Linked DNA regions of Homo sapiens: regions 1 and 2 are each reported to be linked to region 3. The links are microRNA targets in miRTarBase. Many come from high-throughput screens and were not tested one by one. Region 3 holds a microRNA gene; each other region holds the end of a gene's coding sequence.

What was found. The annotated mature microRNA hsa-miR-183-3p reads GUGAAUUACCGAAGGGCCAUAA and lies in region 3 at 2,414-2,435, opposite strand. An mRNA with a match to its seed (bases 2 to 7 or 8) in the 3' UTR can be bound and repressed. Matches are read on the target gene's strand: a 7mer-m8 pairs with bases 2 to 8, a 7mer-A1 pairs with bases 2 to 7 and ends in A, and an 8mer does both.
Region 1: miRTarBase lists RIOX2 as a target of hsa-miR-183-3p. Seed matches in the 3' UTR shown: 7mer-A1 at 897-903 and 7mer-A1 at 3,160-3,166.
Region 2: miRTarBase lists CLN8 as a target of hsa-miR-183-3p. Seed matches in the 3' UTR shown: 7mer-A1 at 2,768-2,774.

Annotation. Positions count from the first base shown.
Region 1 is chr3:97,938,805-97,945,999 of GRCh38, reverse strand. It overlaps RIOX2 (ribosomal oxygenase 2), which reads left to right. Exons shown (of 10, transcript NM_153182.4): 9 at 113-202; 10 at 658-4,182. The coding sequence ends at 816. It overlaps CRYBG3 (crystallin beta-gamma domain containing 3), which reads right to left. Exons shown (of 22, transcript NM_153605.4): 20 at 4,694-4,852; 21 at 3,557-3,716; 22 at 1,016-2,774. The coding sequence ends at 2,686. Among named protein-coding and RNA genes, the nearest start is that of RIOX2, 30 kb to the left of the region's middle.
Region 2 is chr8:1,779,242-1,786,436 of GRCh38, forward strand. It overlaps CLN8 (CLN8 transmembrane ER and ERGIC protein), which reads left to right. Exons shown (of 3, transcript NM_018941.4): 3 at 1,009-7,195. The coding sequence ends at 1,326. Among named protein-coding and RNA genes, the nearest start is that of CLN8-AS1, 18 kb to the left of the region's middle. RefSeq lists an enhancer at 4,472-4,971 and a silencer at 6,045-6,167.
Region 3 is chr7:129,772,515-129,779,709 of GRCh38, forward strand. MIR183 (microRNA 183) reads right to left here and starts at 2,500; the gene lies at 2,391-2,500. It overlaps MIR96 (microRNA 96), which reads right to left and starts at 2,255; the gene lies at 2,178-2,255. RefSeq lists enhancers at 719-1,580, 4,424-5,270 and a silencer at 6,969-7,098.

The DNA of each region.
Region 1 (7,195 bases), not on the chromosome of region 3:
ACCAAGGCTTTTGAAATTTTTTTTGGTGTTGACCTATTGGAAAACCTTCCTAGTACTGACACCTTCAGTGTTGTGTTGTTGATGGCCTAATGCATTTATTTTTTCCCCAAAGGATGAAGCTCAAGAAAAGATGGTGTACATCTATCATTCCTTAAAGAATAGTAGAGAGACACACATGATGGGAAATGAGGAGGAAACAGAGGTTTGTTTCAACTGAAAACAAATGCCTATCCTGTGACTTGGGTGGTGGTTGGGAAGAATTGATTATTTTTGATTTACAGGTAATATGCTTTTTATGGCTGCACTGTGGACTTAACCATTTTGCACTACTCACAGAGCTCCTGCATGGGGATGATTAAGTCAGACATTTCTGTGATACATGCACACCAGTTTTAAGACATACTAGCTGGGACCTGTAGCCTTATAGGAATGGTATAATGTAAAACATTTCAAATTACTAATATCACTTACTACATAAATTAGGATGCCTTTTATATAGAAGTTGGCATCTTTTATGTTATCTAATTGTAGTGTGTCTAAAATACTCATGAGGGGTATCAAAAATAATGATGTATGGAGAATAAATTTACAGGAAAATGCTACTTCAATGACATAAGTAGTATACATATATTTTGACAAATAAATTTATCCTTTCAGTTTCATGGACTTCGCTTCCCTTTGTCACATTTGGATGCACTGAAGCAAATTTGGAATAGTCCAGCTATTTCTGTCAAGGACCTGAAACTTACTACAGATGAGGAAAAGGAAAGCCTGGTATTATCCCTCTGGACAGAATGTTTAATTCAAGTAGTCTAGTGCCTTTGCAGAATCAAATGCCTACTATTTTATATGCATATATTAAAAGAAAAGCAAAGACCTGAGCCGAGGAGAGGATGAATTCAAGTTTCCTTACCTGCGTATCTACTAACAAACATGAGACCTCCCTGTTACAGGTGGTCAGTTGGCCAAATGTACTAACGGGCACATGAAAGAAAGAACAGCAAATTACCAAGTGTCTCAGAAAATGACAAAACCATATTTTGACAAGTTTATTTAATCCAGTGTGGTAGAAAAGGCACAATTCCAATGTATCATTTAGAATTGAATGTCATTAACCTGGCTTTGTTCTTTGGAAGAAACAACTTCTTTAAAGAGCTTCTTTGGCTCTAGAAAAATTTCAAACAATTAAAATAAGAAAAAATTTTAAACTGGTTTTTTATAATGAAAATATACATACCTTTGTGTATAGACAAGCCCATGCCCATTAAAATAAAGTTATCCTGTAACATAAATTTTATTAAATAATACTTCCCCACAGATGAGAGGCACGCAACACCTATGGACAAAAGGGAGTTACAGAGGCTGCTTAAAAGATGGAGAAAAGCCTGAGATTGAAGGAGGAAAAAAACCCAGTATTTAAAGTCTATAAAAAATACTCAAAATAGTGGGTCTTCGAGTTTAAAATAGTCATTGTTATTTTACATTCTAAAGTGCATGTAGGTTGATATTTTTTAAAATATCATTGGAGAATTTAATCTTTCTTTATAAAAATAGAGCATTTTTCTGCTTTCTGGCAAAAGTTGGGGATAAAAGGAAAAAAAGTTGTCAAAATGTAATTTTCAGTCCAATTCACCAGGAAAACATGCTTGTGAATTGTGCAGTAAAAGGTGGTAATGACTACTGGAAGCTAAGTCAAAGGTGATTTCCTACCTGATTTTACTTACTTAAATAAAAGTTACTTACAATGGGAGTGAAAAACTGAGGTTTCTGTTATTTAGTAGAGAAATCAACTCCACGTTTACTTAAAGAGATGGTAAGGTCAAGGTTCAAATGCTACTGTGTTTTAATTTGGATATTTGAAATTTCTCTTGAGGCAAAAAAAAAAAAAAATTGATGCCTCTCCTTAAATCTAGGATGAAGTGTCAACATGGAGACAGGTAACCACTGTTATAGAGTCTTGTCACCTAAAGGGATGTCTTGGTTAACACGTAACAGTGCAAGTTTGGCCATAGGTTATTTATTTGTACTTTTTTAGTTTGAAGGACTGAGGAAACAATAGCTACAGAAAATACTTCTTGTGCCTTATTCCTAACAAAGCTGAGGTCCCTGCCTGGGGTTAGTTACAAGTATAAATACTTAACGAGGTGCGTTCATTATAAAAGCCTCAGTATAGAAACCTTAAAGTTTATCTAGGAAAGTTTAGTATATTTTCAGGTGTTGCTAAAAAATTACTCATCTGTTTGCAAAAGTATGACTTGACCTATAGAAATCTGTTTCTTTATGCTTTGTACTCATACAAGCATCTAGGTAGGATATTAATAAATAATACAGGATAATAGCATCACCAGTGTCCAATAACGGGCCATCAGGAACAGGATTCACGTTTGGTGGATATGAGAGAAAATAAACACTTCAGGAAACTTGCTCACCACAGCTGGAGATCAGGAATAGAACCTTTCCAAGATATCATAATATTTTCTTTATAGGAACACTGAGTAATGGCAAGAATATTTTGAGCTTTTCCATGGTTAAGAGCGATAGTCTCAGAGGCTGGAGAAAATGTTCATTCTGCTCAGTGATCCAGGAGTGTGAGGACAGTAGCTTCCTTTCCACGTCCACAAGACAATGACAGATGTGTTTCCTTCTTTGCTCTTTCTAGGGATCTTTCTAGGGATGTTGATTCTCTCACAATATTTCAATGTCCCATTTCTGTGTTTCTTCTCCCTCCAGGGGCTGATTTACAATTACATGAGTCTTGTCACAATAATTTCCTCCTAAAATAGAAATTCCAAAAGAAAAGATTATTTGTTCAGGCAGGTGCTTAGCAATTTCACAATTTTCACAAGCTTCTGTTCAGCTCACCATTTCGGTGGATGAATGTGTCATTTACAAAGAAGTCTGAAATGGGAAGCTGAGTTTGAACAGGCTTAGCCATTATTCACCTCAAATTGGACCTTATTATGACTCAAATTGAAATACTAAAAGGTATAATACATGATTGTATAAGTGGCGTGCCTTAATGTGATTCTTTAGAACAAAGTGCTCTTGAGAGAACTCTGGCTGAATGTCAGGTACTGTGTTTTTGTTTCTACACCAACAAAACTGTGACTAACCCAATTAAAGCAACAGCCATGAATAATATTGGCCCTGACCTTGCTGAATTCAAAAACAAGGTTAATTGATACCTACCATAAATTCTACCTGAGGGTTTTTAAGGACCATGGCAATTCCTGGCAAAAAGCTAGAGATGTTTCTAAGAAACAGATGACATTCATTTCATGGTTTATGGTGCTTGAAATTTAGAACTGTTCTGAGTTCACGTAGCAAATGAAAGTTTTACAACTGTACTAATGAACAAAAACCCTAAGCTTTGTTGTTTGGCTTTTTCTGCTAATTGTTTTGTTTGTAAAACTGCCTATCTTAATTTTCTTCAAGCATAATTTTAAATGACTTAACATTTCTCTTATACATAAGGATGTCCTTTACCCAAAATGAGGAGATTTGGAACTGAAACTAATATCCAGGGACACAACATTGGGTATCATCAAAGGCCCACCTTTAACATCAAGGACAAGTTGATCACTGAGATAAGAGCTGATAGTTCCATTTTTATTCAGTCTCCACTTCTGCCTGAATTGCCCATGTTCAGTCCATAGAGCTACTTTAGCTCCAGGTGTGTCCCGGCCACCAATCACATCAAGACATGTATCACTGGCCTAAAAGGGTTAAGAAATGATTAATTGGCAGTAGTATGTTTGCTAAAGTAAGTTGAATTAGGTCCCTTTTATCTTAGGTAAACAAGTCATAGACATGAAGTGTGTGTGTGTCTTATCTAAAAAAATACTATATAGTATAATTTCAGTAAGCCTTTTTTAATGTCTTCTTTACGGCTGTGGGTAGGAGATGGTACAGAAATAAACCAACTGAAATAGAGGTACTTGTTTTTAATAGGATGTCTACATCTGACAACAGATGTTCAATAAAGATTTGGTGAATTGGAATTAAATGTTAAATCCCTGTTTGCTTAAAACGTATTATGTTGAGCTTGGTTTTCTTATGAAAACATTGCATGATGGGCTAAAGATATCCAGACAATAATTACTTTTAAAAGTTTTTCATTTTTGAAGCATGAGAAAAAGTAGATAATCCATTGGTGATACAATAAAACACAGTTTGAATGTTTTTAAAGTAGTGTTCTATTCCCAATGCATTAAACATAACGGAAGGGTCATAGAAAAGAACCCTAAATTTTATTTTCTAAGCTTCTTCCAATAACAGCTTTCTTCTTCTACTGCTTCTTTGTATACTTTGAAAATGAAAGGTTTCAACATATTTAGAATCACAGAGATGGCTGATTTTATCTGGGCCATCAAGTAAGGAACATCTTACAAAAGCACATTGTCCAACTTAGATCTGGTGACTTATACCATTGGTTGTAAAAAATCACTTAGGTATATCCATAATATGTGATAACCTTTGTGTTTACTTAAAAATTGAAACTGGATTTTCTTGTTCAAAAAATTAAGTTAATTTTATATAAATGTTTTAGTAATATATGGCAGTATTTTTATAATCAACACCTGTTTCTAAGAAGTTGCATTGTTTTATCATGCCAGTTGATTTGACAGGATTCTAGTTTTCAAAATAAAAAACAGACCAGAAAGTGGCATACTGTATCAGTGGGATTGCTTACCTTGGATTTAAAGAGTCCTCGGCAGTAGTACCAGATCTGAGTATTCTTTCCACTATAGGGAGAAATGCACACAGATGTTGCCCTGGTGTCTGCTAGACTTCCAGTGACTGTCAGATATTCACCCTGGGCACGGTTCTTTATTCTGATGTACACTGCAGGCTATGACAGGAGAAACAGCCATTTAGAAATAAACTTTTGAATCTGGAAATGAATCCTTCCAGAGGAGGAAAGCTGGGAGGGAAAGTGAGAGGTAACTATCTTAGTTATATCAGTTTCACTCTTATTCCCTTTAGTAAATCTGCATAGATTAATATGGTAAATCCTTAGGCCGTGGAGCATAAAGCTTAAATTGTACAGTCTCTATTACACTTTGTGAAAAGTGCCCTTTTGAACAGCATGAAGTAAAAGTTTCTTTCACTAGAATTCCATGTGGTGAGGAGTGGGGTGGTAAAGAATTAGGGACTTGATGAGTTTCATTCAATAGTGTGTCCCAGCTGTGCTGAGGGAGGTAGGGGAGTTATTACCTACAAGGATTTTCTAAAAACTTCAGAAAGACATACTGTGGAGCTATGACTAAATGCCATAAGTTGGCCCTGGGAGGTCTTGAAAAACCCAGATAGCTGAGGGCACTAGTAGCTGTGATTATTTGTTTATATAAGACCTTTATTTCTTCAAAAGTAGAGACCATGTATGTTTAATGACTATACTTAGGTACTCAAAAATTGTGTAACAAAGGACTTCATCCCCTTGGCCTGGAAGTTTTAAGATACATACAAAAAGTTTTAAAATATTAAACCTGGGACTTGCCTCTAAGGAGAATAGCTAATATTTATTGAACACGTAGTATGTGTAAGCAGCATGCTAAATGCATTCTGTGCCATTATGTTATTTGTCAGAATAACCACAAAAACCTATTAAGAAAGTACAATTATACCCTAGTTTTACAAATAAGGTGAACACAGATGTAAAGAAGCCAGGTTCCTCTTAACCAGGATGCTCTCAGACCTATGTTGAAATGCACTAGTTGCTCTTAGGCACAGGGAATAAGAGACGAATTCCAAAGGTGGCAGTGTAGGACAATGAAAGAGCAGGGCACATAATGGAAGCACAACAGAAGCCATTATTTCAGCCCTATGACTTAGGCCTCCAGCCTTAATGTAATAAATGACACCCAACATGACACCCAACATCCCCACCTTTGGTTCTTCTCATTGCCATCCCAATTAGAACCCTGGCTGAGTAATAACAAATGGTCTCTTAAGAGAGCACTTTCATGCTAAGAAACATAAGTGCTTAGGTAAATGCAATAGGTCATATGGTAAGAGAACCAATGAACAGTCTACTGTTTTTGAAACTTGATAGATCAACGTGAAGCTAACTGAATTTTGGTAATTAAACCTTCCTAAGGAAATACACATTCTCAGCACTTAAGCCAATAGAAGGACAAATTATCTGGCCATTTAAACCAGGCGAACAAGCTCTCTACTTGGCAAAATGTTTTAAATGTTTCAAATCCCTACTTCCAACATTAACAATGCAACAGTAGTGTACTTAAATGTCTATAATTCAGCCGGATCTACTGCAATTATTAATTCTTGAGGCTTCAGTATATCTTTATTACATTTTCATTACCTTGTACATATAAGAAAACAGGCGTGACCTTCACAGATGACAGAGTTCCAATTACTTTAGGACCAGACATCACAGTTTTAATCAATTAACTCAGGCAAGGTACTAATTACCCTTATTACACATTTGTAGTCTGACTGCTCTGTAATTATACTTAAAAACACTGATATACATTATAAGTACCTTAGTGACTTCCTAATTCCCAGCCTCAAAGAGGATCACATTTTAATTAGTCCTGAATTTCTAAACAAGAATATGAACCAAAGCAGTACCAACAGCCTTACCACAAATTTAAATGTGACCCACAAACTACTATTTTAGAAACTCAGAATTCCTTTGTTGGATTTCAAAACTGTGACCTAAATAAACAAAAGGAAAAATAATCTATTAAAATATTATTTTGAAATTAAATGTTTAATCAGAATAGGAATCAGGTAGCTCCTAACGCACAGTGAAAGAAAATAGCATACTATTCTTGTTAAAAAAAACTTCCTTGTAAAAGTAGAGGTGGCTGTTCTATCCTTTACCAGACAATCTTGAACAATAGGCAGGGACATCCTTCTTCCCCAACAAGGAACCACCATTAAAAAATGAGGAACATATTTTCATTGTTGAACTTGGCTACTAAAGTCTCTAACAACAGAGGGTCAGCATTATTATGTAGTTAGTAAAAGCTAAACTGAATTCCTATCTCTACTTTGCTTTTTCTGATGGCTTTTCAGTGGGCTTACTCCCTGTTCCACATGATAGGAGTGGGGAATAAGCAAGATGTAAAGGTCATGAGATCGTCTACCACACACTCTGTGCCAGGAAAGCCATTAATGTTTCAGTATCCCTCAAAAGAGCATCTCAAGGGACATTGTGAATAATAAT
Region 2 (7,195 bases), not on the chromosome of region 3:
TTTTATTTTATTTTATTTTTTTGAGACAGTCTTGCTCTTTCTCCAGACTAGATTGCAGTGGCACGATCTCAGCTCAGTGCAGTCTCTGCCTCCCAGGTTCAAATGATTCTCATGACTCAGCTTCCCAAATTAGCTGGGATTACATGGTGCGCCACCATGCCTGGCTAATTTTTTTGTATTTTTATTAGAAATGGGGCTTCGCCATGTTGGCCAGGCTGGTCTCAAACTTCTGACTTCAAGTGATCTACCCACTTCGGCCTCCCAAAGTGCTGGGATTATAGGCGTGAGCCACCGTGCCTGGCCCAAGTTAGAATATTTTGCCGGGGAGGTATACTGTATTAGTCAGCTCAGGCTGCCACAGCAGACTGCCATAGACTAGGCAGCTGGAATAGCAGAAATTCCTTTCTCACAGTTTTGGAGGCTGCAAGTCTGAGATCAAGGCACCAGCAGATTCATGTCTGGTGAAGACCCACTTCCTGGTTTACATGGCCACCTTCTGGCTGTGTCCTAGCATGGAGGAGGGGAAGGCTCTGGTCTCTTTCTCTTCTTATGACACTAATCTCATCATGGGGCCTTACCCCCATGACCTCATCACTTCCCAGGGTCTAGGTATGGGAGCTTGATATACCTGTGTCTGGTTTTGCCAAATAAGTATTGTTTATTTACTTAATATGAGAAAATTCAAGATAAAACAAAGATTGAAGGGATACTGAAAGAAAGGTTGAATTTATCATAGCTTTAGGGAGCAGAAGCCAAAGAGCAAGAGGAGCAGGAAAACAGCATGAGCGGGCAAGGGTCAGCCCTGCTGGCCCAGGTGCGCCCACAGAGCTGGTGGCCTCCTTTCAGAATGAAGTCCCAATGAGAGCAGAGCCCTGGGGAGGAAATTCTTTTGCTTTGAAATGAATTTGTTTTGTTTGGTAAGTAAGGTAGCAAATACCTTTTTGTGATGTGAAGAATGAATTTTGGCAGTTTCGCATTGACTTGTGCATTTGTCTTCTCTCCATGCAGGCGGGCTGGTCCGAGTCTCTGTTTTGGAAGCTCAACCAGTGGCTGATGATTCACATGTTTCACTGCCGCATGGTTCTAACCTACCACATGTGGTGGGTGTGTTTCTGGCACTGGGACGGCCTGGTCAGCAGCCTGTATCTGCCTCATTTGACACTGTTCCTTGTCGGACTGGCTCTGCTTACGCTAATCATTAATCCATATTGGACCCATAAGAAGACTCAGCAGCTTCTCAATCCGGTGGACTGGAACTTCGCACAGCCAGAAGCCAAGAGCAGGCCAGAAGGCAACGGGCAGCTGCTGCGGAAGAAGAGGCCATAGCTGCTCCAGCCGGGGCTCCGGGGCGGCAGCAGAGCTGGCACACCGATTCTGGGAAGCCCCGCGAATGATGGCTTTTGAATTAATGAGGCAGTGAATGTTTTGTGTTTACTTCTAAGGGAAATACTAACTTTCTTTCGCATTAGTATTAATTTTGAAGTAGCTACAAAGTATTTTTAAGAAATTATAATTTTATGACTGTCTGGCAGGCTCTGTCAGTTTAGCCGCGCCGGACCGTGTCAAGCATCTAGGAGAGGAGTCCATGGTGTCCAGGCATCGGGGCGTCACACCTGTTGAGGAGTGGGGTGGCTTTGAATGCTGGAAATGGCTTCATAGTGAAGTGCCTCCCACAGGGCGGGTGGGTCAGCGTTGACTCTTTCCAGCTGCACACTCATATGCCGTGTGTCTTATTCAGAAGTCACATTCTTTTCAGTTGGAGAGAATTGGGCTAAGATAGAAAATAACATGATTTGTTCCTTATTAAAGCTTCCCAGCGTATGAAATTCTAAGCTGGGTGGGGTGGCTCACACCCGACGTAATCCCAGCACGTTGGGAGGCCGAGGCAGGTGGATCACTTGAGGCCAGGAGTTCGAGACCAGCCTGGTCAAGATGGTGAAACCCCATCTCTACTAAAATTACAAAAATTAGCCGGGTGTCGTGGCACACACCTGTAATCCCAGCTATTTGGGAGGCCAAGGCAGGAGAATTGCCTGAACCCGGGAGGCGGAGGTTGCAGTGAGCTGAGATCGCACCACTGCACTCCAGCACTCCAGCCTGGGTGACAGAGCAAGACTCTCTCTCAAAAAAAAAAAAAAAAAAAAATTCTAGACCGAAGTGTACGGCAGTGCCATCTGGTGGCAAGTGGTACAAAGACAACGCTGAGGGGTAGTGACTCCTGTAGCAGCAGAGACGCCTTGGAGTTTAACCCCCACCAACCAGAGCGTGGGCTGGTAAAGATGAAATCTTGCAAGTTTTTTTTTTTTTTAAATCATGGTACCTGTTTTAAAATGAGAAGTTATTATTCATACTGTGTTGCTCATTTGACAAAATAAGGTAAGGATTTCATAATCAGGTTGTCTGGGTTTCAGAGCTGTTTTTAATTGACTGAGTTACCTACAGGCACCCAATCTAGACCCTAATTCTGTGGTTGGTGTTCCTCTGTAGATTTCAAGACAAGTAGTGATGTCATTTTCTCCCTGAGCTGTAGGGTGGACCTGGACCCCTCAGAGATGCTCGACTGCAGGGTCCTGGGGTCCCTAGAGTGGTCCTGCAGCAGCCCCTGGCAATGAGCTGCCTGATGATGAGTCCCAAGGTACATTGTTCTACTGTTTTATACCCAGGTAGAAGTTACACAGCAATTTAGCAATGTTGTTAACAGACATACAGAATTGTGTGTGTGTGTGTGTGTGTGTGTGTGAGTGTTTTGATATAAACGTGCAATTAAAATTCAAAGTTTATTTTTTATCACAAGCACCTTTGAAATGTACGTGGAAAACGTCGGCTGCTCGTGAGAATCATGTGTGACTTACGTTCCTTATGTTTTATGGAACTCTCGGAACAGTGTTTTGTTTTTGTTTAGTTTTTGTTTTCGTTTTTTTGAGACGGAGCCTGGCTTTGGCTCCCAGGCTGGAGTCCAGTGGTGTGATCTCGGCTCACTGCAACCTCCACCTCCCGGGTTCCAGGGATTCTCCTGCCTCACCCTTTCAAGTAGCTGGGATTACAGGTACCTCTACCATGCCTGGCTGATTTTTTGTATTTTTAGTAGAGACAGGGTTTCACCATGTTGGCCAGGCTGGTCTCTGACTCCTGACTAAAAGTGATCTGCCCACCTCGGCCTCCCAAAGTTCTGGGATTACGGGCGTGAGCCACTTCACCCGGCCCGGAGCGGTGTATTTTGATTGCTGGTGCTTTAACTATATTGACCAAGGTGTATAGTAACCTATTTATCACATTTTACGAAGCAATTTTAATCTTAAACACATCCAGCAAATGGTGTCCCTGCTGAAACTTTTAACTGGAAACCTCACACCTGGCAGGCAGCACTCTCTGCAGCCGTGCCCTTGTGGAGTCAGCAGGAGCTGGTGTTTTTCAGCCAGACAGAGGCATAATAAAGTGACTGATGTTTACAGAACCCAAATGATGTCTTCCTCTCTCTCAAAATAAACTAACCTATTCATATTGCTGTGAATGCTTTATCTTGGAGATAGAAAATATAATGATAAATTCATCATGTGTTCAGAATTCGATTTGGAGTTGGAAGTGGACAGCCTAATTTTTATCTCACCTCCACTAGGACTTTGACCTTCCCAGGGGTCCACACTTTACCTCCTGTATCTTCATACGCGTGTGTGGATGCATAGAGATGGAGGTGCTGTAGAGAAGCACAGGCTCACCCGCTCCGTCCAGTGTCACCCACACATTGGTCCGGGGACCCCTCAGTGCAGAGCCTGAAGTTGGGGGTTTAGGGGTGGAAAAGGCTTCGTGAAATGTTAATGATGCGTACACCTTCCAGATGGCACAGCACTTTCCCATGGTCCTCACTGGCCTCAGTCTCCCTGACCGGCAGTGTGAGGGGATGTAGCTATAGTGGAGCATGGTACAAGCGACATTCATGAGCTCTGACTTCTTGGTGCCAGGTTGGTGTGAGCCTGGGCCCGGCCCACTCAGCGGCCCACATTGGCCAGCATTCAGCTGCACGTGTGTGCTGCGTGCTTCACATCCTCTATTGAGAGTTACAGCAAGTGTTAAACGAGGTGAGTTCACATAACAGGAATTCTGGAACTGCTTGAAAACTAGGACGATTGGGCAATATCGGCCTTAACTCCACCTGATGGCAGGTGACCCGGATAGAAAATGGCCCTGCGTTTAGCCAGGATGTGGCTCTCCAGCTTGGCTTCAGTGTGATCACTTGTCAGTGCGCTTTCTCTTTCGATAGTGAAATCCTTCTCTATACCTATGTTTTGTTTTGTTTCTTAAGTTGGGAAACAGAATGGGCCAGGGAGGTTGAGTGACTGAAGACCAAGGGTTGGTGCAGCCTCCTCGCCGCGCTGCGGGGGCTGGGCCGCACAGGCTTCTGCCCTTCTCGGTGTCCAGGCTCCTTGGGTGATGCTGGAGTTGTCATGGCCGCAGTTCAGTGTGAGATTTTTTACCAGGTATTGCGCTTAAGGGACATGATTTTCCATTTTCTTCGCCCGGACAACTTGAATGAAATGGGCACTGTTGATTCCACTTCTGTCGAGGAGCTTCGGGGCTCAGAGAGGTGATGACGTGCCCAAGGTGACGCAACTCGTGAACAGCCGTGCCTGCCTTGGGCGCAGCCTCCGGCGCCAGAGCTGGGCTCTTCAACACGGCATTTAGCGCAGAAAGTCGTGGTTCAGGCAGTATGGGCCGCTGTGACAAAACACCTAAGACTGGGTAGTTTATAAAGAACAGACATTCAGGCCAGGCACGGTGACTCACGCCTGTAATCCCAGCACTTTGGGAGGCCGAGGCGGGTGGATCATTTGAGGTCAGGAGTTTGAAACCAGCCTGGCCAACATGGTGAAACCCCATCTCTACTAAAAAAACAAAACTAGCTGGGGGTGGTGGTGCATGCCTGTGGTCCCAGCTACTTGGGAGGCTAAGGTAGAAGAATTGCTTGAACCTGGGAGGCAGAGATTGCAGTGAGCCGAGATCACGCCATTGCACTCCAGCCTGGGTGACACAGTGAGACTCCATCTCAAAAAAAAAAAAAGAACGGACATCATTTCTCACAGTTCTGGAGGCTGGAAGTCCAAGATAAAGGTGTGGGCTGATTAGTTTCTGCTGGGAACACTGCATCCTCACGTGGTGGAGGGGATGGAAGGTCAACAGGCCTCAGCTAGTTCTCCGCTGCCTTTTTATGAGGCATTAAGCCATTTGCAAGAGTAGGGGGCCCCACCTCTTAATACCACCGCAATGACAATTACAATGTCATGTGAATTCTGGAGGGGACACGGTCACACTGCAGCATCAGCACCCGGTGAATGTGGTTCTCTTCCCATGTCCGAATTTTGTGAGCTCCACACGGGCAGGGTTGCATCTGTTTTATTCTCTGATTGATTCTAAGCCCCATGTCCCTGGCACAGGATGGCTGCTTGGCAGTAGGGAGTGGATGAACCAGTAGTACCCAGGGCTGCCAGGCAGGGCCCTGCAGGGGACAGACCCAAGGGCTGATATGGGGACACCTGCTGAGGGGGGAATTTACCACGGTAAGGGCAGGGCTGGGAGGCTGGGCAGCCAGTTTCACCCTCGCACAGGCTGCCTGGCAAGACCAGCGGCTGGAGGTGATGTCCTCAGTAGAGAACGGTGGCCACTGGAAACGTGTGGCCAGAAGGGGAAACGCTCGGGCCTCTGGTGGGGGCCAGCCTGGGGTGGGGTCGGCCAGGGTCAGCTGCCTTTCCTTCATGCTGGGGAGGAGATGTTGTGTGCATGTGAGAAAGCATTTGATAGCATGCCAAAAGTTTCCTCCATTATGTGCGTGTCAAGTGTTTGACCAGGTCAGAACTCTTGTTCTATGCGAATGTGCTCACGCAGACAGAAGCGGAGGGGCTCCGTCGCTCTGCCCTCACGCCGCTGAACCGCGAGGGTCTCCCGCTCCTCAGGCTTGCGGCTCGGCCGCGAAGTGTGTCAGGTGTGCATCCTGGGTGCTCCTTTGTGCTCTGTCCTACGGTGACACAGGCGGCGTGGGGTTAGACAGGTACCGGTCAGACTACGGTGACACAGGCGGCGTGCGGTTAGACAGGTACCGGTCAGATTACGGTGGCACAGGCGGCGTGGGGTTAGACAGGTACCGGTCAGATTACGGTGGCACAGGCGGCGTGGGGTTAGACAGGTACCGGTCAGATTACGGTGGCACAGGCGGCGTGGGGTTAGACAGGTACCGGTCAGATTACGGTGGCACAGGCGGCGTGGGGTTAGACAGGTACCGGTCAGATTACGGTGGCACAGGCAGCGTGGGGTTAGACAGGTACCGGTCAGATTACGGTGGCACAGGCGGCGTGGGGTTAGACAGGTACCGGTCAGATTACGGTGGCACAGGCGGCGTGGGGTTAGACAGGTACCGGTCAGATTACGGTGACACAGGCGGCGTGGGGTTAGACAGGTACCGGTCAGATTACGGTGGCACAGGCTGCGTGGGGTTAGACAGGTACCGGTCAGATTACGGTGGCACAGGCGGCGTGGGGTTAGACAGGTACTGGTCAGATGCACGGGCTCCCTAAACCCCTGCTGTGGCTTCGGCAGTAAAGACAGGACGCACCCATGTCACAAGAGGAGCACAGGCAGGGGTGTTGGTGTTGGGGCAGCCCTCAGGGTCTCCAGACCCCAGCCCCACTCACACAGCAGCCTAGGAAGGAAGGGCAGAGTCCCAGGTGTCAGCTGGTGGGTCTCCCAGGAGCTGCCCCTCCCTGGAAGTCACAGGACAGGAATGACAGATCAGGGAACTGCAGGAAGCTGCCACCTCTGGGGTCAGAATATGCCCAGCCTGCGGGGGCTCTCTATCGGGGTCTTCGAGAGCCAGACAGCCTGCCTTGTGCTGCATACCTGGCTTTGCTCTGTGCAGAACCCAGCACACGTGATTTTGTGTGACATGCCAGCAGCCTGGCTCCCAGGACAGGAGGCCTGCCCTGGGGGAGGGGCTGCAGGAGGAGGGGGGGCAGGCACCCATGAGTCTGTCCAGCCTTGTCACAGATGCATCGCCCACCCTGCGGTCCTGATTTCAGCTCACCTCAGAGTAAATCAGAATAAACTGCACCCAGACTTTCACGAATGCATGTTGACGCTTTCAGTTCACCCCTTTCTTTGCTAACTTTCTTCCTATTTTCTTCTAATGCGAGAGCTTATTAATTCCATA
Region 3 (7,195 bases):
GTGGGGAGGTGAAGAGGGGCCCTCTCCTATCCTAAGTGCCCCCAGCCTGGGTGGTAGGAAATTGTGTCTTTAGGGAGGAGGGCCAGCTGTGGTGGCCCCCACTCTCTGGGACAGTCACTGTTGTGGGTGAACTCACCACCCAGGTCTGGCCCGGAACTAGGTAAATTAGGAGATCTAGAAACTAGCTTTGGCCTGAGGTCCTCCCCTGGAGCGCTGGAGCAGGGCCCCAGAGCAGCCGGGCCTGAAGCCTGGTGGAGGCACGCCCCCACACCAGTGCCTGCACTCGGGGCTCAGCAAAGGCGCCCACCTGGGCAGGTGTGAGGAGGTGGAGCCCAGCTGCAGACCACCCAGGGGCTGAGGGCAGCTTCTGTCATCCGGCCTTCCCCGCTAGGCAGGAAGGAGCAGAACCCTGGCCAGACACTCCAGAGGCTCCAGGGAAAAGCTCTAGAACCGGTCACTGCCAGGGGCCTTCCACCCCCCCTTGCTGGGTCTCTGTGCCCACCCCACCTCCAGGGCTCATTCTCACTCAGGCCGGGAAATCCCTTCTTTCCTATCCCATGGGACCTGCAGCAGGACGCCCTAAGGAAGCACCCGGGGCGGAGGACTGGAGCACAGAGACAGGGTGCGGCACAGGCCAGCCAGGTTCCGAGGGGCAGAGGGAGAGCTGGGGCCATCAGAAGAGAGACCTAGCTACAGGGACACCTCACCAGGGCAGAAGTCCCCTTCTATCCTGAAATAAACAAGCCCCTCCTTTTTTCTGCAGGGGCTTGGAGAGCTTCTGTAGAGAAACACGGGCACCACACCCCAGAGGGAATTTATTGGGGGCTCCTCGCGGTTTGGTGATAGCTAACTGACAAGAAAAAAAAGGCCCAACCCACCCAAGGCAGTCCCCAGGGCACCCAGGCAGGCAGCACTGGTCACCATGTTCCTGCTGTGCAGTCAACTGGACCCGTCATCCTCCAGCTGCCAGCTTCAACCACACACATCCCCCACCCGGGCACTCCCTGGCTCAGACACCTAAAATGACTCCCACTGATCTGGGCTAAGTCCACCAACCCTTGCCTGAGGCTCCCTGGGGAGAAGCAGCCCCATCAGGGGCTGGCCCAGTGACCTGGGGCATGATAGCTCCCAGCTGGTCCCAAGTCGGCCACTGGTCTCCTGCTTGATTGCTGACCACCAGATTTCACATGGGTCCAGCCTGGCTGGCCAGGCTCTCCCCAGCTTTGACAGACTAGGTCCAGGCCTCCCAGCCTCAGTCTCTGCCATCTGGGGCATCCTTGGGAGCCCAGGCCTGTAGATTCAGAGCTGAGACACCTCCAGGCCCTGGGTGCCTCCATGGAAGGTGTGGCTGGTGGCGGAAGAGCCACAGTGACCCAGCTCTACCACTCACCAACCTCTTCAGCCAAGCCTTTCCTCTCAAAGCCTCAGGTTCCCCATCTATGAGATAACTATTTTAAAAAATTACAAGCCCCACAGGGCTGAGGTGGGAACTGTTGGGATTATATATGTAATGTCACCTGACACCCAGATGGAGAGCATAGGCCAGTTAGTCATAGCCCAGATCCAGGGACCCAGGAAGCTACATTACCAGTGTGTGGTGTGTGAAGGGGAACATTGGCCTCTGCTCCAGAACCTTCTAGGGGCAGGCCTGAAAATGCCCTCCAACTCCGAGCCCCACTAAGTATCCTCCTCTTGGAGCTGTTCGGAGATGACCCACTCCACAGCAGGCTACAGCTCCAGAGACGGTAGCCCCCCTGGAAACACCCAGGCTGACCTCAAGGGCAGCCCACCTGCCTGGAGCTGCCCCCTTCACAACCTGCAGCAGAAAAGACCAGGCCCTGTGCTGCCAGCCAAGGTCTCACCCCAAGCGTGTGCTGGGAGCCTGGCTGGGCCTTTCCAACCCACGGCACCATTCAGGATGGCCCTACAGATGGTTTCAGACTCCCCCACCTCTGCCCTGGGCGGCCCCATCTGCTGGCCCAGCTCAGATTGCTGGGCTCCCAGCTCTACCGTGGCCCCAGGCAGTGTAAGGCGATCTGGCTGCCCACCAGCGCTGGGCCCTCACACAGCAGCTGAGCCAGATGGGCTGGGGAGGCGGTGAGGAGGCCTTGAGGAGGAGCAGGCTGGGGCCCTGACACAAGGATGCAGGGGAGGCGGACGCAGCTGCGGGTCCTGCTTTTCCCATATTGGCACTGCACATGATTGCTCAGAGCGGAGAGACACAAGCAAAAATGTGCTAGTGCCAAAATCGGCCAAGCAGATGGCACTGGTGCGGGCTCTCTGGGGACACACTGGACGAGGGGCCTTGCATCCCTGCACCCTTGGAAGCAGCCTGTTTCCGACGTCTAGGAGCACTCAAGGCAGAAGTGGGTAAGGTGCTCCGGAGGCCCTCGTGGATCTGTCTCTGCTCTGTTTATGGCCCTTCGGTAATTCACTGACTGAGACTGTTCACAGTGAATTCTACCAGTGCCATACACAGAACAGGAGTCACACTCTGCGGCCTGCCGACCCTGCGGAGAGACCAGCGGCCCACGATGCCCGTTCCCTGCTCCTAGCCTGCCCACTCCCTTGGGGGCCCCCCAGCAGGCCCTCAGCAGCGGCTGCTACGGTCTCTACCCCCCACCCCATCCCACCTCTTCACAAGATCCACATGCCCCATCAGCCCAAGATGACCTTCAAGGAGACAGGGACAGTGCGGGAGAGGAGCTGACCTTCTGGCCTTGCAGAGGAGAAGACCACACCAAGGTGTCTCCTATCTCCACCTGAAGGCCCACATCCCTCCACATCACCCAGACTGCGCCTCCAGGCTGGGGAGGGAGTGGGTCAGGACCATCCATCTCCTTGCCAGAGTAACTCTGGCTCGGAGAGGCAAGCAGCTGGCCAGAGCCTCCTCTCTACCCAACCTGCCACAGGGGCAGTGACCAGTGGGACATCCAAGATGCCTCTCGTAGCCTCTGAGCCCAGACACCAGCAGCCCAGGCTCCTAGGCACTTTGGTCTCCATTATCCTCCACCCCCCAGCCTGCCCTGTGGCAGAAACAGAGCCCCAGGAACAAACCGAATCTGCTGCTCACCCCCACTCCCATCCCAAACCAGACCAGATTGGGCCAGACTGTGAACCGCCCAGGCTGGGCATCTCTGCTGCCGGCCTAGGATCAAGGCAGGAAAAGGCCAGGAAAGGAGGGCAGAAGAGAAGTCCTGCAGCCACCCAGGTGGCTTGGAGGGAGCCGGAGGCACGGATGCACTCTAGCAAGGGAGTGGCTCCTGGCTGGCTCTGGAGTGACTGCGGAGGAAAGCGGAGGCTCAGGAGCGAGGGAGGGGCTGGGAAGGTTGCATCAGTGGTTGCCAGAGCAGCTGCCTAGAGAGAAGTTGCTGTGGAGGCCCTGCCTCTGGTGTCACAGGCCCTGGGGAAGGACGGGAAGAAGGGAGAGGGTGGGAGGGAGGGTCTCTGGGGAGCTGGCACCCAGGGCAGGCAAGCTGGGGCCTCCGCAGAGTGGCCACTAGAGTCTCAGCCTACTCCAGGTCAGCGGTGGCCCAGAAGGCAGGGTGGCTAGAAAATATCCTGGAAGGGTCAGAGCAGGTGCCCTGGCCCAGAAACTATGCAGACCTCTTGGCGATGTTACCCCCAGGAACTACCTCCCGTGGACCTCAGAGCTCCATCTGGGTACCTTGGCCAAAGCCATCCGCTCTCCCCTAGACACTGCTTAATGCTCCACCCTTCCTGCTCCCGAGGACTCTTTGTCCTGCTCCCACACACCCCCACTACAGGGCTCTGCCCTTCTAGCTGGTCTATCTCCCCAGAGGACAATCCAGCTTGATGAGGTGGTGATCTCAGGAAGTCACTCCTCAGCCTTCTGCCTCAGTTTCCCTTACTACAATTTTCTGAACTCTACTAAGGAAGAGAGACCAGACTTCCCAGCCTTGGGTGGGGAGGGGAAGGGGTGATGGCAGGGTGTTAGCAAAGAGTATGGGGTGGGTAGTTATGAACATTGCTTAGGGTGTAGCCATAAGCATCACCCAAGGAGCCTGTTGAAATGTAGATTCTTGAGCCTGCCTGGAAATCTGCATTTTAATAGCACCCTGACAGCTCAGCATGGGGTGGGGGTGGGGGTGGGAAGATCTATTTTGAGAAATCTTTCCCAAGAAGCCTCACCCTGGGATAATTAAACAGAATGCAGAATTCTTCTTTCTTCTGGCTGGGCGCAGTGGCTCACACCTGTAATCCCAGCGCACTTTGGGAGACGGGAGGATCGCCTGAGGTTAGAAGCTCGAGACCAGCCTGGTTAGCATGGTGAAACCCCCGTCTCTACTAAAAATACAAAAATTAGCCAGGCGTGGTAGCAGGCGCCCGAAGCTGAGGCAGGAGAATCGCTTGAACCCGGGAGGTGGAGGTTGCAGTGAGCAGAGATCGCACCACTGCACTCCAGCCTGGGCAACAACAGAGCGAGATTCTGTCTCAACAACAACAAAAAAAAAAAAAAAAAAAAAAAGAATTCTTCATTCTTCTTTTGGGGACAGCCAAGGATGGGGAGAGGCAGGTGTTAGGGAAGGGGAACACGCAGCACCTTGCAACCAAGGAGCCACAGAGGCCTTAGAGCTGGAGAACAGATGGAGCCAGGGATTCTGCTCTCCCCAGCCCAGGAAGGAATAAAAGGGACCCCAGGTAGAGGAGAGAGCCCTGTAACAAAGCAGCCAAACACGTACGCTCCTTCAAATTGTGGCATCTCTGTCGAGCTCCTTGGTCTGTTTTCCTCATCTTTGTAACTGACATAGGATGGAATACAGGGAGCAGCTCGCAAAGCCAAATCCCTCTCCACTTCCAGTTCTAGTCGGCTGGGCCAGGTTCCTCCCCTGCGCCTGCCTCACCCCTCCTAACCCAAATGCGACAGGAAGCCCAAGTGCCGCAGTGCCTGGGGGGTGCCACGCCCGCTGGGGCCTCTCCATCCTGGTGGAGGGAGGCTGGGGCCTGGGCCCTAGGGAAGCAAGGTCTCCCAGCTCTCTCGAAAAGCGGGTAAGAGGAGCTCTCCGACATCAGCAGCAGAATCCCCACTCGGAATCTCAAAAGGGAAAACAGAGGCCTATGGCTTGGCGCAGGTCAGGATAGCAGCCTCTTCTGCCCTCCCTGCAGGACACAGCCCTGACCTTGAGATCAAAGGCACAGAAATCCGCTTCTGGAGTGGGAAGATGAAGACAAGGTCTCCCACACCCGCTGGGCGTCAGCGCCTGGCAATGGAAGAGGACCAAAAGAGATGCAACTTGCAGGCCAGGCTGGGCAGCCAGGGACTCACAGGGTGTGTGGGGGTCCTACACATCCTAGGAGGTCTCCACAAAGCGCCCCCTCCCACCTTCGGTCGCTCTCAGCCCCACCCTCCTGAACTCTACTTGGGCCTTCTTAAAACTCGAGTCCCCTTTCCCCTAGGGGTGTCCCTTCCTGGGCACTGGTGCCCAATGCAAAGGGCAGGCCCCCAACCCCTTCCAGTGTTAGAGGTGAGTGTTGCAGGACTCTGGGCTATGGGTACTCCGGGGTCCTTAGACAGCACATAGCCTACCGCTCGACTCCTGGCTCTCCTCTCCACCTCTACACAACGAATCTGGAGTCCAGGGTCCCAGCCGCGCCACCCACAACCGGTCTGGTCCTGATCCCTCCAGTCTCTATCAAATGCCCCTGAGGTCCCAGGGGCTAGAGGCTGCTGGGGCCCTTGAACGGGCATGCCCTGGACGCTGCGCCTGTCATCCTGTGTCCCCATGAGGTGCTGGGAGAGGGGCCCAGAGCTCCTTTCCCCGAAGCCCAGGCCGCCACCGACCCATTAAATAAATACTCAGGTGTCTGGGGTGCGGAGCTCACTCCAAGAGCCACTGGGCCCCGGTAGGAGAAAAAGAATAAACGAAATCCTCACAAGTGAGGCCGGCATCCTAGAATTTTCTCTTCTTTGCGTAAGGCCGACTCCAGAGGTCCCGCTAACTCCCCCGCAGGAGCATGAAGGGGCGGCCTTGAGCGGTAAAGAAACGAGCAGTGGTGGAGGCTGCCGCTCCGAGCCCAGGTCCGAACCGAGAGCCGCGCGGGGAATGTGGGGGTCGAGGCTGAGAGCTGGGCTTGGGGCAGGTTCCTTTGCGTTCGCTCAGGCCACGATGAGGCCACTAGGACAGATTTCTCCGAAGGCTCGGCCTCGGATCAGAGATCCGCCGACTCGGTGCCCATCGGTCGGGCTCACTGGGTGACAGGTAGAGGGTGATGCGCACCCGTAGAGCTGAGTGACCCGGCCCGAGAATCCGCCACCTGGCTCGCAGGATTTTCGCCCTCAGGAGCTTTGCGAAGACGGGCGCAAACCTGGGAGGCGCCGCCGCACCTTGCCTGTGGGGGTGGGGAGGTCGATTACGGCACCGCCCGCCCTCGGCCCTAATCGCTCAGAGCCGGCCTCAGTGCCCCTGCCCCCGGCGGGTATTACTGTACACGGTGTCCGGGAGCCCGGGTTGGAAGAGCAAACGAATGGCTCAGCCTGGAGGACACCGTGGAATCGGGCGACCCCTGACCCCGGGTGACACCCTCACTGCCCATAGTCCTGGGATGCGCTGACCGGTGAGGCGCCAGAGGCAAGCCGTCCAGCCGCCGATCTTGGGGAAGGGCTGGGAACCTGGGTGCCACTAGCGCTATTAACAGGAATGGGGCAGTTGAGGGCGGGGAACGGTGTCTCATTCGCGTGCGCCGGGGTTCCCGGGATGAGTGGCCGCGAAGTGGAGGCACACGGGAGGTCTGAGAGCCGCTTTCCCCCAGAGACTGGGCGGGGCGGCTCCGGGCCACGGAAGCAGCCTCGAACCAGCCGCGCAGCCCTGACAAGACGCTGGAGGGGCCAGCTCCGGGGCCCCGGCGCTCTCCGCAGCCCCCTCCCAGCCTGGCGCTTCCGCCTGAGCCCACCAGGGCGGCGAAACGCAGCCCGACCCCAGCCAAACTCCTCGCGGGTAGGCACCTCGCAAGCACCGGCCGCACTCGGACCGCAGCCGCTCCCGCCCCCGCCCCCGCCCGGGAACAGCGCTGGGCGCTGGGCAGACGCCACTGGCGGACCCGGGACCCAGGCGCCCCGTGGGCGCCTCCGCCTGAAGGCGCGGAAGAGCGAGTAGGCACTGCCGCGTCATCCCCGAAAGCCAGCTGCGCCGGGACTTCTGCCCTGCACCCGGGTTCTAGTGCGGCCGGTCCCGGG